Linked DNA regions of Homo sapiens: region 2 is linked to region 1. The links come from fine-mapping of genetic effects on gene expression. Tissue or cell type: thyroid. Region 1 holds a variant in brackets; the other region holds the start of a gene. All regions are shown on one strand. Distances are between the middles of the regions.

Region 1 (8,197 bases):
TAGGAGCAGAGTTGGATGTCTGTGCTAGAAAGAAAACTTCCAAAATGAGCCCCGAACTTGCCTCAAGCGCCATGCAAGCGTCCAGCCTCCGCTGCTGAGTTCCACGTCGGGACTGAGCCGGGGACCGAGCTGGGACCGAAGTTCCGCTCCGGGCCCGCCTTGGTCTGGCCCCGCGCTCGTGGCACCCCGCCCAGCTTTCGTTTTCCACTGAATGGAAAGCGAAACTTACAGCGGCCTCCGCGCCGGGAGCTGGGCGCCAGCGTGCGGGGAAACCCTGCCGGCCCGAGCTTCCCGCGGCTGCCGTTGCAGCCGCGCACCTGCTCCAGACTTCCAGCCCTCGCTTTTTTTTTTTTTTTTTTTTTTTGAGACGGAGTCTCATTCTGTCGTCCAGGCTGGAGTGCGGTTGCGCTGTCTCGGTTCACTGCAAACTCCGCCTCCTGGGTTCAAGCGATTCTCCTGCCTCAGGCTCCGGAGTAGCTGGGATTACAGGCATGCGCCACCACTCCTGGCTAATTTTTGTATTTTAGTAGCGATGGGGTTCCGCCATGCTGGCCAGGCTGGTCTCAGGTGATCCGCCCGCCTCCTAAAGTGCTGGGATTACAGGTGTGGGCCACCGCGCCCGACCTACAGGCGCCTTTTTATTTGCGATTTTAAGGTCCTTGCAATTAGCCTACGTGTTAGAGTCATTTGGCGTTTGGTAGTATCCATGGCAGCATTTTTTCTTTCTTAATGCTATTGTATTTCTTGGATCGGGTGTCTTCACATCACCGGCCTGTGGCTTGGATGCGGCACATGGTGTAATTAGGAGCTCCCCTGTGGGCATGCAGATACAGATATTTCTCCACTTAAGAAGGGGTCAGGGGGCGCGGTGGCTCACACCTGTAATCCCAGCACTTTGGGATGCTGAGGCAGGCGGATCACCTGAGGTCAGGAGTTCGAGACCAGCCTGACCAACATAGTGAAACCCCATCTCTACTAAAAGTACAAAAATTAGCTCGGCGTGGTGGCGCTTAATCCCAGCTACTTAAGAGGCTGAGGCAGGAGAATAACTTGAACCCAAGAAGCGGAGGTTGCAGTGAGCAGAGATCGACAAGAGCAAGACTCCGTCTAAAAAAAAAAAAAAAAAATGGGGTCAAGTCCCAGTGAACCCATCATGAAGTCGAAACATCGTAAGTGAAACCACGGTAAGTGATGGACCATCTGTGTATATATAAGGTTAAGAGATCTGTAACATGCACACCGGAAAGGCTTATTACCTCTTTAGAGATGTATTTCTTGTATGTAGACTCATGGGGGTAGGGGCAGAAGGGTTATCTGCTAGGGGCCTCAAACTCCAGCCGCTGGAATTTGCGCAGGAAAGCAGGGTACAATTCCCCCAAAGCGATCATTCTTTCTGAAAGCCGTCCCCGCAGCAACAGACAAATAGCCTCCAAAAACCCAAAGCTGCCAGAACCTCACTGAAGCGTTGGTAGGGTCTGCAGTAAGGTACAAAATACCATGGCATGAAGATGTATAAACGTGTCCATAATAGGGTGGATGTGTGTTAGAAGCATGAGCACAGATATACACATACAGGCTATCCACACGTCCATCGTCAGCCCAGACTCCGCTTACATTGCTGCTGGAACGGAGGCAGTGTCGCCCACAGTGCAGCATGTTCTCCCTGGAAGGCTGGTGGACTTTGCGCAGTATGGTGTTTACACAGGTACACGGTGGTGGGCGCAGGGTCCGTCCTCATTATATTTGCTGACCAATCAGTTATATAACCAGCTTCATACATCTGGTAAGTCTTGTCCACAAACAGGAACCTCAAAAACTCAAGTGAGGGCAATGAGGAGAGGAGGTTGCAAAATTTGATAAAATATGCTAAATACAGCAAGTCAGTAGAAGGCTAAGGAGCAAGCTGCAGTTGCTTGCAGCAACTATCAGCAGAAAACTATTAATAGTCAATCCAATGATTCTATCTGAATCTTGGTAGGTCGGTGGAGCAAAGTAATTGGTGTTGCTGCCCCAGTGCAGAATGGACAAGGGTGAACCTTGGGTTGGAGGCTGGACTATATAATGTAAGGATCCATTACACTTCTATGGGGCTCTTCCTTCCGTCCTTCATGGTACCCTCCTGAACAATTCCGTGCTAAGGCCATCAGGTGTGTCAAGCAAAGTGGGCGTTTGTGTAGTATGTTCCACAGTGGCCCAAGCAGGGTGCTGGACTGGAGCAGGTTGAGGAGGGTGGCAGCACAGTGGGGCTGCCCAGCACAATGTCAGACACAAATGGGTGCTGGTGCAGCCCGGCCCAGGGTCACAGCCCAAGCAATTTGAAGATGTGGCACATCCCGGTATTGGAGTGGCCCAGTGTGTGGTGTCCAGGGAGGGCAGGGTGCTGGTGGAGATGACAGATTAGTTACATACAGGGGGATGACCAGGTAACTGAATGTATTAAGGATAATTGGAGCCAGAGTTGAAACTCTCAGAGATAGGAGTTACAAATAAGGAAAGGGAGAATGAGCCCACTAGTGTTGAACTGGAATTGGACTTAGCAGTGTGGATCCATGATTTTCAGTATGTATACACAGATAGATAAAGAAGTACAAGGCGGGTGGATCACGAGGTCAGGAGATTGAGACCACCGTGGCTAACACGGTGAAACCCCGTCTTTACTAAAAATACAAAAAATTAGCTGGGTGTGGTGGCACACGCCTGTAGTCCCAGCTACTCGGAAGGCTGAGGCAGGATAATCATTTGAACCCGGGAGGCAGAGGTTGCAGTGAGCCAAGATTGCATCATTGCACTCCAGCCTGGCGACACAGCGAGATCCCCTATCCAAAAAAAAAAAAAAAAAAAAAAAAAAAAAGAAGTACATGTGGAGGTAAACATGTGTATACATGCATACATCCCCTGACTTGGTCTGTAGGGGGCCTGGGAACAGTGACACCCCAACAGTACATCTTGCACCCAGATCTTGGTTTCTAATTCCCATTCTCTAGTAAAAGGAACCAATGTTGCTTGGAGAAATGGCTGTTTCTGGGGTTAAGGCAGAGAAAGTACAAGATGAGCCTAGGACATCTTGTTCTGCCAGCAAGTAAGGGAATGCTCCAAGAATGATGGGGATGTTTCAAAACGATGCAGAAGCCAGCTCCAAGACCATGCTCCCACTGGCCAAATTTGGAACAACTTGAGCATTAAAAGAAATGATGATTTGTTTTGTTTTGTTTTTGTTTTTGAGACGGAGTCTCGCTCTGT[T/C]GCCCAGGCTGGAGTGCAGTGGCACTATCTTGGCTCACTGCAAGCTCCGCCTCCTGGGTTCACACCATTCTCCTGCCTCAGCCTCCCGAGTAGCTGGGACTACAGGCACCCGCCACCACGCCCAGCTAATTTTTTGTATTTTTAGTAGAGACGGGGTTTCACCGTGTTAGCCAGGATGGTCTCGATCTCCTGACCTTGTGATCCTCCTGCCTCGGCCTCCCAAAGTGCTGGGATTACAGGCATGAGCCACCGCGCCTGGCCTGAAATGATGATAGTAACATTTCGACCTGTTAAATAAAATGGGAAGCCACACTTCATACCAATAAAAGTAGATACTGAATAAATTAAAAGTTTGATGAGAAACAGGATATTTACACAGTTTCAAAGTACTCTCCCACAAAATACATATTATTAATTACCATTATTACATACATGTGATACAGGTTCATTCTGCCCGCATGCCATAAATCCATCACTGTGACAGGTTTTGTAAAAGAGAAAAGATTTATTCGCAAGGCAGCCCAGTGAGGAGGCAGGAGAACAGCTCTCAAATCTTCCTCCCCAAAGATAAGTCTTAGGGATATTTACCGGTGAGAGAAGCAGGGTGGTGTAAGGTATGGGCAAAGGTGATTGGCAGTGGGGGAAAATGAGGCAGTCGGTGACCACTGCAAGCATAGTCAGGGTTCGTGGCACTTCACAGGGCACATGTTCAAAAAATGACAGCCTTAGCGTGATCTGAGGGTGTCGCTTGGGGCCTCTGATGTCAAAAGGCCACTTCTTTTGTTTGCACAAGCCTACTTGAAAGCTCACGGTCTCAACTGGTTTGAACTAGGCAGGAGCTGCCCCAAGTTCCTGAAAAACAATTTGAACGATCATGACAGTAGTGACATACATGTTATCTGTAAGGAAGCCGGCAAGGTTAAGTTACAGCGCTCAGTGGCGCGGCCTTCAGCTTCACAGAAAAAAAATAACAAAAGCAAGTGACCCAAAGCAAGCAGGGCAGGCTAAATTGGGCAGACCTAATCAGATGAACCCCATGGTCTCATATGTAATATTACATTATAACTATAAAGAATGTAATTAATGTAAATATTCGGTACAAGAAAGTCATCAGTGCGGGGAACACTGGAATTGCGTGCCACCAGAGGACAGAGTGGAGCCAGCGCGGTATCACTTCTGTGCTGTTCCCATCGAAGGTCAGTAACCGGAACCCCTTCGCCAGGACGCGGGTCCTGGCCAACCCAAATCGAGGGGCATTCTGCAGATCAGCTGGTCTGCCATCTTCAAACGATTCATGAAAATCAAAGACAGCTTTGAGGAACGGCTCCAGACTGGCAGAGACCAAAGAGGTCATAGATGAACAGGAGATCCCCAACTGGATCCTTTGGCTGTAAAGGACAATATTGGCACAACGGGTGAAGCTTGAATGGGGTCTGAGGATTAGGTGGTAGTAACTTCACAGGCGGGGATTTGGGAGAAATGCAATGTCACGTGGAAAACTGACTCTCAAATAGTTCAAGAAGGAAGTTCTTTGGACTATACTTGCAACTTTTCTGTAGGCTTAATACTGTTTCACAATTTTAAAATGTAAAATAATAGTACCAGGTAGTAGTTTTTTATTAAGACAGATTGTGCTTTTTGAAAGCATTGGTGGAAAGATTTCTCAAAATCATGCGCGAAAGAGTTTATAATGAAATTGTGTAATATTTGTTTCAAAAGAAAGTGTGGGCCCTGAGAAGCATTTTCTGTAGTTTACACAGTATTTCTGCCAATTTGGGATACTTTCAGTGTCCCTGGAATTCTCATCATCTGAATTTCTTACTCTTTTTCCCTTTAAAAAAAAATAAAATAAAGAAGTATGAGGCAAAAGGCCACACCTACCTACCTCACTTTAAAATTCTGTCTAAAAACCTGGTCACAGAGGAAGATGTTGGCTAACTTTAATGCGATAATCTAGTTCCCCTCAAAATGGAAAGCTATTTAGAAAAAAGCTATTTGCCCAACGTGAGGAACAATTTATAGAAACTGACAAGAATTTTTGTCCTGGGGAAAGGACAGGGTTTGTTGCATGGGATAAGGGGAAGTGATGTGGCCGGGCATGATGGCTCACGCCTGTAATCCCAGCACTTTGGGAGGCCGAGGCAGGTGGATCGTGAGGTCAAGAGATCGAGACCATCCTGGCCAACATAGTGAAACCTCGTCTCTACTAAAAATACAAAAATTAGCTAGATATGGTGGTGTGTGCACCTGTAGAACCAGCTACTCGGGAGGCTGAGGCAGGAGAATCGCTTGAACCTGGGAGGCGGAGGTTGCAGTGAACCGAGATCGCTCCACTGCTCTCCAGTCTGGCGACAGAGCAAGAGTCTGTCTCAAAAAAAAAAAAGCAAGTGATTTTTTTTAAAAAAAGAAAACAGAACCGATGTCTGAAAAAGTAGTACTCCTTTACAAAACACATTCTCTACAAACGCGTGGTTTCATGTGACCTCTGCTCAGTCCCTTTCCACAACTTTCTCCTGCCTATTTTCTTCTCTGCATTTTGTCAGGATGCTTTTTATTGTAAATTTTACTGTGTTTTGCATGCTTCCAAATATAAAAAATAATTTTTAAGATGAATTAAACATTGAACCTCCCTCTCAGTATTGTTTTGGGAACATGCATTCTCCTGAGGAGAGGGAGCTGTTGAGTGGAAGCAGTCAAACAGAACTCCACATTTCATTTTCCTGGCATGGGTTTCAGGGTGCAACTCAAACAGAATGTGACTTGGCATCTGTCACCTTTCCCAGGCACTCCCTATCCTCTGGCAATTTGTTGCCTTAATGGAGAACCATTCAAAATTAAATATTTTATATTAGAAAAGAAATGTTAAACATAAAGAAAAGTTATACAAATATTATAACAACCTAGTGAGCCTTCCTTCACTAATTTTCTCTCTCATACACACACATCTATGTGTATGTGTGAGTACACAGTATATATGTGTATATATTTACACAATCACTTTTTTTCTTTTGCTGGACTACTTGAGAGTAAATTGAAGAGATTGACATTCTTCAGCTCTAAATAATTCAATATGAACCTCATAGGATCAAAGATGTTTTCATACATAACCCCAGTGCAATTATTACCAAATTCAGATAATTTCATATCCGTACAATTTTCCCATATATAATATATTCAATATTTAAATTTTGACAGTTATCCCAGTATTGTTTATACAGCAACTGTTTTCCTTTGTTTCTTATTTTTATAGATACATAGTAATTGTACATATTTATGTGTTACATGTGATACTTTGATACATGCATACAATGTGCAATGATCAAATCAGGGTAATGAAGGTATTCATCACCTCAAACGTTTATTATTTCTTTGTACTGGGAACATTCCAAATCTTCTCTTCTAGCTATTTTGAAATATACAATAAATTATTGTTAACTATTATCACTGTACAGTACTATCATTCCCTCTATCTAACTATCTTTGTACCCATAACCAACACTTTTCATCCTTCCCTCCCTCCTATTGCTTGCCAGCCTCTGGTAGTCATCATTCTACTCTCCACCTCCCTGAAATCAACGTTTTTAGCTCCCACATAGGAGTGAGAAGGTGGGATATGTATCTTTCTGTGCCTAGCTTATTTCACTTAACGTAATGTCCTCTGGTTTCATCCATGTTGCTACAACCGACGGGATTTCATTCTTTTTATGACTAAATAGTATTCCACTGTGTATATGTAGTACATTTTTTTTTTTTTGAGACAAAGTCTCGCTCTGTCACCCAGGCTGGAGTGCAGTAGCGTGATCTTGGCTCACTGCAAGCTCCGCCTCCCGGGTTCACGCCATTCTCCTGCCTCAGCCTCCCGAGTAGCTGGGACTACAGGCACCCGCCACCACGCCCGGCTAATTTTTTGTATTTTTAGTAGAGACAGGTTTTCACCGTGTTAGCCAGGATGGTCTCGATCTCCTGACCTCATGATTCGCCTGCCTCGGCCTCCCAAAGTGCTGGGATTACAGGCGTGAGCCACCGCGCCCGGCCTTATCTAGCATGTTTTTTATCCATTCATCTGTTGATGGACACTTGGATTGATTCCATATCTTGGCTATTGTGACTAGTCCTGCAGTAAACATGGGAGTGCAGATATCTCTTCAATATACTGATTTGCTTTCTTTTGGGTGTATACCCAGCAGTGGGATTGCTAGATCATATGGTAGTTCTAGTTTCAATTTTTTGAGAAACCTCCATACTGTTTTCCACAATGGTTGTACGAATTTTCATTTCCACCAACAGTGTACGAGGGTTTCCTTTTCTCCACATCCTCCCCAAAATTTGTTATTTTCTGTCTTTTGATAATAGCCATTTTAACTGAGGTGAGATGATACCTATTAATGTGGTTTCAGTTGCATTTCTCTGATGCTTAGTGATGTTGAGCATTTACTTATATACCTGATGGCCATTAGTATGTCTTCTTTTGAGAAAATGAAAATCTTTTTCAGATTATTTGCCCTATTTTTGTTTTGTTTTGTTTTTGAGATGGAGTCTTGCTCTGTCACCCAGGCTGGAGTGCAGTGGGACGTCTCGGCTCACTGCAACCTCTGCCTCCTGGTTCACGCCATTCTCCTGCCTCAGCCTCCCGAGTAGCTGCAACTACAGGCGACCACCACCACACCCGGCTAATTTTTTGTATTTTTAGTAGAGATGGGGTTTCACCGTGTTAGCTAGGATGGTATCGATCTCCTGACCTCGTGATCCGCCCGCCTCAGCCTCCCAGAGTGCTGGGATTACATGCCTGAGCCACCACACCCGGCCCATTTGCCCATTTTTAATCAGATTGTTTCCTTACTATTGAGTTATTTGAGGTTCTTATACAGTTTATATATAGGTAACTAATCCTTTGTCAGATGCAAGTTCGCAAATATTTTCCCATTCTGTAGGTTGTCCCTTCCCTGTTATTTCCTTT
Region 2 (8,197 bases), 35 kb after region 1:
GCTAATCACCATCCTTGGCAAAAGGAGACTTTGAAGCCTTAAAAAGGCTGTCTTGTGATACTATTTCCAAGTATCACAAGACAGTAAAAGTGGCATATCATCTGGGAGAGGGGCCGACGTGGACCACAGTGTGTGCCCTGTGAAAGCCTGGCACCACCCACACTCCCTGACCACCTGTGCTCTCATGCCCCAGTTGCTGTCAGGAAGCATGTGATTACACCGAATTATCTCTAGTTGTCAGGCTGGGATAAAATAGATCACATATATCTTAGGACCTAGGTCAGGGATGGCAAGTGAAAAGCAGGCCCACAGTGTCACAGAGGGGTAATTAAAGTAAGGACAGATGTGGCTCCTGAAGGGCTGCTGAATTCTCTCTGCTCAGAACTCTTCGATCATAGGGCATATTTGAGATCACTCATAACAAAGAATAGATAGCAAGCCAGACACAGCAAAAACAAAGTCGGCCTAAATTCACTTTAGCGAGTGAAGGTGGCTCGCGAGAGGGGCTCAGATGATAGGCACTGCAGTTAGGGCAGCAACAGAGCTCACAGGAGGCCAGCTCTGGCCATGAGGCCATCTGCTAAGGAGACTTCCAGCATAAGAGGCCGGAGGGCGTTGAAGGCCTGGGCTGTGGCTGGCACTGGGGCAGGTGCAAGAGACACTTAGGAGTTTCAATCCGATGCACACAGTGCCTGCTCCATCTCCTGCTCTCTTCTGCAGCTTATTATCTGAGAGAACTCCTAACAGGAAGACACTGCAGGGGAAATGCCAACCACAAAGGCCACAGATAGTGCTGTCCGTCCCTTGCGGCTTGAGGGAAAAGGAGCATTTGGTCTGCTTCCTCCCCCCGACAGTGCCACATCCTCCTGCCCACCCCCATCACTGGCCCGCTATCCACCAGCTATTTCCCCCACCAAAATTATTTTTAACTTTCATCTCCCTTTGAAGGTCACTAGGAGAAAGCACATTCAACAGTGGCATTAACCCCCACCCCAAGCTCTGTATGGGCCTGACCCAAGGCTGGGGGCTCCCAATGGACTCACCAATCCAGCAGCTCTGCCCCAGCCGCTGCCCTGTGAGCCAAGGCCCCTCACTCGGAGGCATGCGCCCAGTGCTTCTCGGGAAACCTGCCTTTTGTGATGGGAGGGGAGGAGGAGGCAGCAGTGACCTGCAGCCCCTGGGAGCCCACACAGTGCTCTGAGGTCAGAATACACCTATCAACTCCACAGAGCTTGGCCATGCCTGTCTACATGGGGAGACTGCAGAAGGCTGCAGGCAGAAGGGTGTCCATTTGGCCCCCAGAACCCTCTAACTGCCCATTTTTGCAGGGAGACGGGCTCCTTCGTGCTCTCCAGTCCTAACGGAATGGAGTTAAAGAAGCCGTGTTGCAGATGTTCCCACCTCCCCATAAACCACAGAAAACTTCTCTGTGCCCTGGTATCATTGGCATGGGCTTGGCTTAGGGCACCTGGCCAGGATTCTCCATACCACTTCCCAAAAAAGGTGTCATAGTCTGAGTTCCCAGAGAGCTGCGTGCTAGAACACTGGGAATGGATGGGAATGGTCTGCTGTGGGAGTAGCCTGCCGGTCCCAGCACGGGCAGGTGGCTCAGGACAGAGGCTCTGGTGCCCAGCAGATGTAAACTCCAGCCCCTACGCAGCTTCTTACCAGCTGTGTCACTTTAGGCTCCAGGACAGAAATGCTAAAGGGTATTGGTGGTACCGTGCAGTGGGTAGCTGGGGAGAAGGGGTTGGGGGTAAGTTCACAGAGGAAAAATGCTCATCTGCCTAGCAGCTAGAGAAATGCATTTAAAAATACACTTAAGGATTAGTTACACTTTTCTTGCCCAGAGCCTACAGAAATTCCAAATCGAATTCTCCTTAACACCAAGGTCACCTCCCCCAAACCCCCACCAGGGAGGGAAGTGAAGGGGACAGGACAGCAGCCTGAAACTTAATCCTTAGAAGAAATACAGTCATTTTTGTAAGGGTGAGATTCTAGGGGTCTAGGTTTATAGATGTGTCATTTTAGCCTTTTACAAATGAGCCAAATGATATTTTAAAAGTTTCTGTGAGTGTAAAATGTTCAACAAAAAATATTAGCCATCAAGACAGTGCAACGCACACAAGTTAAATGTTCTAGATAGAACCTACTAGACAAAATTGAGTGTTTCAAAATAAATGAAAGGTGGTCGCATTTCAAAATATTTAACCATAGGTTTTCAGCTAAACACCCAAATTCTTAAGCACGTTCAAAATAAAGTTTTGCTGTTTGAATTGTTGATTTACCAGGCATTGTCAGAAACACGTCTGTGGATCACACATTCAAGCTTGTGCACAGGGCTGGGTTAAGATCCTCGACACGCCCCTGTAAACATCCTCTGGGCTCCACTCTGTACCACAATGGCATTCAGATCCAAATTAAAGCATGCAAGGGAAGCACTTGGAAAATCCTAAAACACTAGCTACCTGCTAGATATTATAAATATTAAATATCAATTCTAGAGTATGCAGCCTAGCATTTGCTTCAAAATTATGGAGGGAGGGAATAAATGAAGTGAGACAGGTCAGAAGTTGGTAATTATTGAACTTAGATGATGTATATAATCGCTAATTATACCATTTGCTCTCCGTTTGCATATGTTTGAAATTCCCTACCATAAAAAGTTTAAAAATAATGAAATCTAAGTGGAGTCTTGGAAATTTGAATTATAACCCTCTTCATTTCGCAGGTAAAACAAACACATCCAGAGAGGTTAAGTGACCTTCCTGAAGTCACACAGCTAGCTGCAGAGCCAGGAGTCAAAATTCTGAACTGGCAGCTCCGGGCCCTTTGTGTGGCCTCATACCAGGGTCCTCAGGCAGAAATAGGTTCCTGTGGCCACCCTCCCTAATATTCCCAAGTTCTTTCAGTTCCCAGGGGTGTCTGGGAGCCCGCTAGGAGGAGGGAGGGTGCTGACAAAACTGAAGCTGGAAGGCTAGAGCTCCGGGGGAGCCAGGAGGCCCTGGGCACGGGCCAAACGTAACAGGGCGGGGCGGAGGGGGTTCTCGCCTGCTTTCTGGATCACTGACACCTGGAGCAAGCCTGCCCAGGGAACCCGACCTTGGCCATGACATAGGCTTATTCTGCCCTCACTCTGCCCCCAATCTTTCCAGCCCATCTCCCTACTGCTGAAAGATCAGGGGTCCAGGAGGGATTCCTGGGATTCTGGGCTTTGGGAAAGTGGACTGGGGGCAAATGTTAACCACCAGGGGCACTGGGGGCGGAGAGGGGGACCCTAGAAAGAGGAACTGAGTGTTTGCAGCCGCCCCTCAGTAAGATCCAGGGGCGGGGGCAGGGAAGGGAGCAGCCGCGATCCCCCTAAGCCAGGGTAGGAAACAGGTCGAAGGTCCCCTGGCCTTTGGAAGCAGAGACTTCTTACTCCCAAAGTCCTTCGACTCTGACCGCTGGAAAGACTTGGGAGCTGCTGAGTGCGCCCGGAGGACCCCGCCGCGCTGGGGCTGTGCGTGCAGCAAACCCAAGCCGCTGGCCAGGCTTGCGAGAAAGACCTCCACGCGTGGGGGGACCGTGGCGCCCTAGGTCCTCTGTCACATTCCGGGCCCTGTCACATTAGGCTGGGTTCGGAGACGTGACTGCATCTGGCCCCCCAGTCGCCCCGGCCCAGACCACCCATCCAGAATCCCCGGACTCGCCCTTCTCTCCACTCTGTCCACAGGCTGCCCATCTGGGGACCCCAGAATCTCGCCCCCTTCTCCGTCGGGCTCCCCAGGGCCTCCCTCCCCCTCGTCTGCACGCAAAGCTCCCTTAGGTCCCTTTAAGGAACAACTGGCCCCTGGTCTCTATTTCCCCCATACGATAAAGGGCACCGGGTGTTCCCGCCCGAGGGTGCGGACTCCTCGACCCTGAACTGCCACCCCCAGAAGGCCTTGAGCCCTGCGGCTCCAGGAAGACGGGTCCGTGCGCCTCCGCGTAGACTCGGCTCTCGGTCCTACGCCTGCCGCGCGCCCGCAGCCCGCCTGGCCCCGGGAAGCCTCACCATCGCTGCCGCTGTCCTCGCCCGCGCACCTCTCAGCTGGGCCTGCCCGCCCCGACTGCTCCAGATACAGCCGCCTCCGCCGTTGTGACACACCGGGAGGGGGGGACGCCGGGGACAGGCGCGCCGGGCCCGCAGCTGCCCCCCGGCATCACAGTGCCGGGGAGGGGCGGGCAGGTCACAAAGGCCCCTCCCCGCCCACCCGCGGCTCAAATCTCCGGGTCCTCGGTCCCGCCTCAGCAGCCGGGGGCGCTCGCAGCGGGGACTGCGCCCGCGGGGGAGGCTGCCCTATTACCAAAGCGCACGTGTCCACGTTCCAACACCGCCGGCGAGAGCAGCCTTCGTGACCCCAGCTGCCGGAGAAAGAAATGTAAAATGCAGCCAGGCGAATCGCGCGGGTCTCCCCAAACTTCCGTTCTCCTCCGACCCGCTGGAAAGGCTCCTGACTGGGGTGCAGCTGACCGGAGCGGGCTGCAGCGGGCCCGGGTGCCAAGGTGCCGTCTCAGCTGGGCGCCCTAGGGCCGTGTGTGCTTGGCAAGCTGCAGGGCCTCTGCTCCCAAAGCCTGTGCCTCCTGCCGCCAAGGCCCGCCTGGTTGCTGGAGACGGAAATGAGATGGCATACACAGAGCTCCTGGTACAGGCAGGTGCTGAAGACTGTTCCCGTTTTTACCCTCTCCCCGGATACCTCGCACCTCCACCGGGATTTTCAAATCTCCCCCCTTGATCCCTTCCTACTTTTAAGCCCCAAACGTGTCCAAGTCACATCTCCTATGTAATCCAGAACTCATACCAGGGTTCCCCTGCCTCTGCCCAGTAGTAAGACCCGCCAGATGCTGTTGGTTGCCCCCTGCTCGGGAAGGGGTGGGCACTTGGTAAAAGCCCCTCTTCACACTTTAGATGTTGGCCACGTTGTCACCCTGCCCATCTCCCCTCACTTCCCCCCAGGTGGGTGAGGGGCTGGATGGTCTTTGTTCCTTGTTCTCACTGCTGTTTCTTGTTCTTTCCCTCCAGTGGTCAGTTCCATTCATGTTGAAAGGTGTACCCCAGCCTCTCTCTTCCACTTTCCTCAGCACCAAGCCAACGCAGGCAAATTCATAGGTTTTCCTTAAGACAATACCACTTTAGCCAGACGTGGTAACTCCCCAAGTTTCCAAGCACAGTTAGAGATCTTCCTACCCTTCTGCTCCTAAGACATGCCTGCTTGTGGCCAATAGAGAATGAGAGCAGATTTCTGCTTACCTATGCGGCAATCTGTTCTGTTGGCCACCCATTCATAAACGATAGTACATGTGTCGTAATCATCTTTGCATTTGAGAGAGTACCAAACACAGTGCTTTACCCACTGATACAAACGGTACTTAGTAAAGCATGCGTTGAATTTTTGTCTATCTTATAATGTAAGATCCTGACAATTAAGACTCAGGATTAAGCTAATTGTGCCAAGCACATGATAAATGGTCAATAAAGGATTTTGGTTATTAGTATAACTCTATGTGTATTTCTCTTCCAAACTCTCCCATAGCATATTCTATTACTTCTTCCATAGCATTTCTTTTATTTTTTATTTTTTTTGATGGAGTCTTGCTCTGTCGCCCAGGCTGGAGTGCGGTGGTGTGATCTAGGCTCACTGCAACCTCCGCCTCCCGGGTTCAAGTGATTCTCCTGCCTCAGCCTCCCGAGTAGCTGGGACTACAGGCGCGTGCCACCACGCTCGGCTAATTTTTTGTATTTTTAGTAGAGACGGGGTTTCACCGTGTTACCCAGGATGGTCTCAATCTCCTGACCTTGTGATCCACCCATCTTGGCCTCCCAAAGTGCTGGGATTACAGGCGTGAGCCATCGCGCCCAGCCCCATAGTATTTATCACTTTCTTTTTCTTTTTTTTTTTTTTTTGAGACAAAGTCTCGCTCTGTTGCCCAGGCTGGAGTGCAGTGGTGCGATCTGAGCTCACTGCAACCTCGCCTCCTGGGTTCAAGCGATTCTCCTGCCTCAGCCTCCTGAGTAGCTGGGATTACAGGCAGGCGCCACCATGCCCGGCTAATATGTATCTTTAGTAGAGACAGGGTTTCACCATGTTGTTCAGGCTGGTCTCGAACTCCTGACCTCGTGATCCACCTGCCTCGGCCTCCCAAAGTGCTGGAATTACAGGCGTGAGTCACCGTGCCCAGCCGTATTTATCACTTTCTAGTTTGGAGTATAGGGGTGTGTGTGTGTGTGTGTGTGTGTGTGTGTGTGTGTGTCTAAACACTCTACAAAACAGCAACACCTTAAAGGAAGGGGTTGTGTTATTCATCTTAGTGCCCTCCCTACCAAAAATAGCTAGTTGAGTGCATCAGGTGAGCTCAGTAAACATAGCTGAATAAATTCACTTTTCGAGTTCTCTTTGTGAACCACCACATAAATCATGAACGGGTTCTTAAGGTGTTGGGATAAAGATGATGATGATGGTGATGATGATGATACTAGTAATGACGGTGGCCCTGAATTGCCTTTCATTATGACAAGGCTCTTGAACCACCTCATCTTTCCCCTTTATGAAAATTTGGGCTGGAGGGAGCTATGACTACACCATAAATGCTAACTATAGCATCTCTGGGTTCCAGGGAGATAAAATAGGTTGGCTGTTATGGACTGAACTGTGTTTCCCCAAAATTCATGTGTTAAAGCCTAATCCCCAGTGTGACTGTAGTCAGAAATAGGGTCTTTAAGGAGGTGATTATGATTAAATGAGGTCCCAAGGATATGACCCTAATCCAGAAAGACTGGTGTTGAAGAGGAAGAGACACGAGGAGGGTGCAGACACGGAGAAAAGGCCACGTGACGACACACCGAGAAGGCGGCCATCTGCATGCCAAGGAGAGAGGCATCAGGAGAAACCAACTCTGCCAACATCTTGACATTGGACTTCCAGCCTCCAGAATTGTGAGAAAATTTATTTCTGCTGTTTAAGCCACCCAGTCTGTGGTATTTAGTGATGGCAGTTGTAAGCAGACTAAAACAGTGGTCTTGGAGTCTTTAGAGAAAAAACAATTGGCTGGGTGCAGTGGCTCACGCCTATAATCCCAACACTTTGGGAGGCTGAGGCGGGCGGATCAGCTGAGGTTGGGAGTTTGAGACCAGCCTGACTAACATGGTGAAACCCTATCTCGACTAAAAATACAAAATTAGCTGGGCATGCTGGCGCATACCTGTAATTCCAGCTACTTGAGAGGCTGAGGCAGGAGAATCGCTTGAACCCAGGAGGTGGAGGTTGCAGTGAGCCGAGATAGCACCATTGCACTCCAGCCTGGACAACAAGAGTGAAACTGTCTCAAAAAAAAATCTACTTCTTTTTGGTTTTTGTCCTCCTTCTTAAAATTATTTGATTTGTGGCATCCTGGATCCCCCATCTCACCCTGCTGTATGCTTTCCTCCCTGGGTATAAGTTTGGAAAGGGGAAAGGACATGTTTTTAAGTCCCTGTGATGTTTAATTTTATGTGTCAACTTGACTTGGCCACAAAGTACCCAACATTCATTGGTCGAACATTATTCTGGGTGTGTTTGTGAGGGTGTTTCTGGGAGATAAACACATGAATCAGTAGACCATGAAAAGCAGATGGCCCTCCTTAATGTGCAGGGGCCTCATCCAACCAACTGAAGAACAGAATAGAACAAAAAGGCTGAGAAACAGGGAACTTCTGCCTGCCTGACTGTTGAGCTAGGTAGGACATTGGTCTTCTGCCCTTGCACTAGAACTTTCACCAGCAGCTCTCCTGGTTCTCAGGCCTTGACTCAGACTGAAACCACGTCTTCACCTCTCCTGGGTCTCAGGCTTCAGACTCAGACTGGAACTACATCTTCAGCTCCCCTGGGTCTCAAGCTTCAGACAGACTGAAACCACATCTTCAGCTCTCCTGGGTCTCAGGCTTCAGACTCAGACTGGAACCACACCATCAGCTCTCCTGGGTCTCAGCCTTCAGACAGACTGAAACCACATCTTCAGCTCTCCTGGGTCTCAGGCTTCAGACTCAGACTGGAACTACGTCTTCAGCTCTCCCGGGTCTCAGGCTTCAGACAGACTGAAACCACATCTTCAGCTCTCCTGGGTCTCAGGCTTCAGACTCAGACTGGAACCATGTCTTCAGCTCTGCTGGGTCTCAGGCTTCAGACTCAGACTGGAACCA

Which allele goes with the higher level. Alleles are on the strand shown, and positions count from the first base shown. SD is a standard deviation of normalised expression in the study named.
With allele C in place of T in region 1, the expression in thyroid of the gene that starts at base 4,096 in region 2 is lower (moderate effect, 0.74 SD a copy in GTEx).

What was found. PIP is the estimated chance that this variant, and not a neighbour inherited with it, causes the effect.
Region 2: TUBA8 starts here. The variant in region 1 is fine-mapped to the expression of TUBA8 in thyroid (GTEx, PIP above 0.99).

What each region holds. Positions count from the first base shown.
Region 1 is chr22:18,142,087-18,150,283 of GRCh38, reverse strand. It overlaps USP18 (ubiquitin specific peptidase 18), which reads right to left and starts at 114. Exons shown (of 11, transcript NM_017414.4): 1 at 62-114. LOC124905076 (a long non-coding RNA gene) reads left to right here and starts at 1,070. Exons shown (of 2, transcript XR_007067999.1): 1 at 1,070-1,184; 2 at 4,344-6,681. RefSeq lists an enhancer at 54-373. The variant T/C (reference allele first, on the strand shown) is at 3,241.
Region 2 is chr22:18,106,708-18,114,904 of GRCh38, reverse strand. It overlaps TUBA8 (tubulin alpha 8), which reads right to left and starts at 4,096. Exons shown (of 5, transcript NM_018943.3): 1 at 4,037-4,096. The coding sequence starts at 4,039. RefSeq lists a silencer at 3,930-4,319 and an enhancer at 4,400-4,599.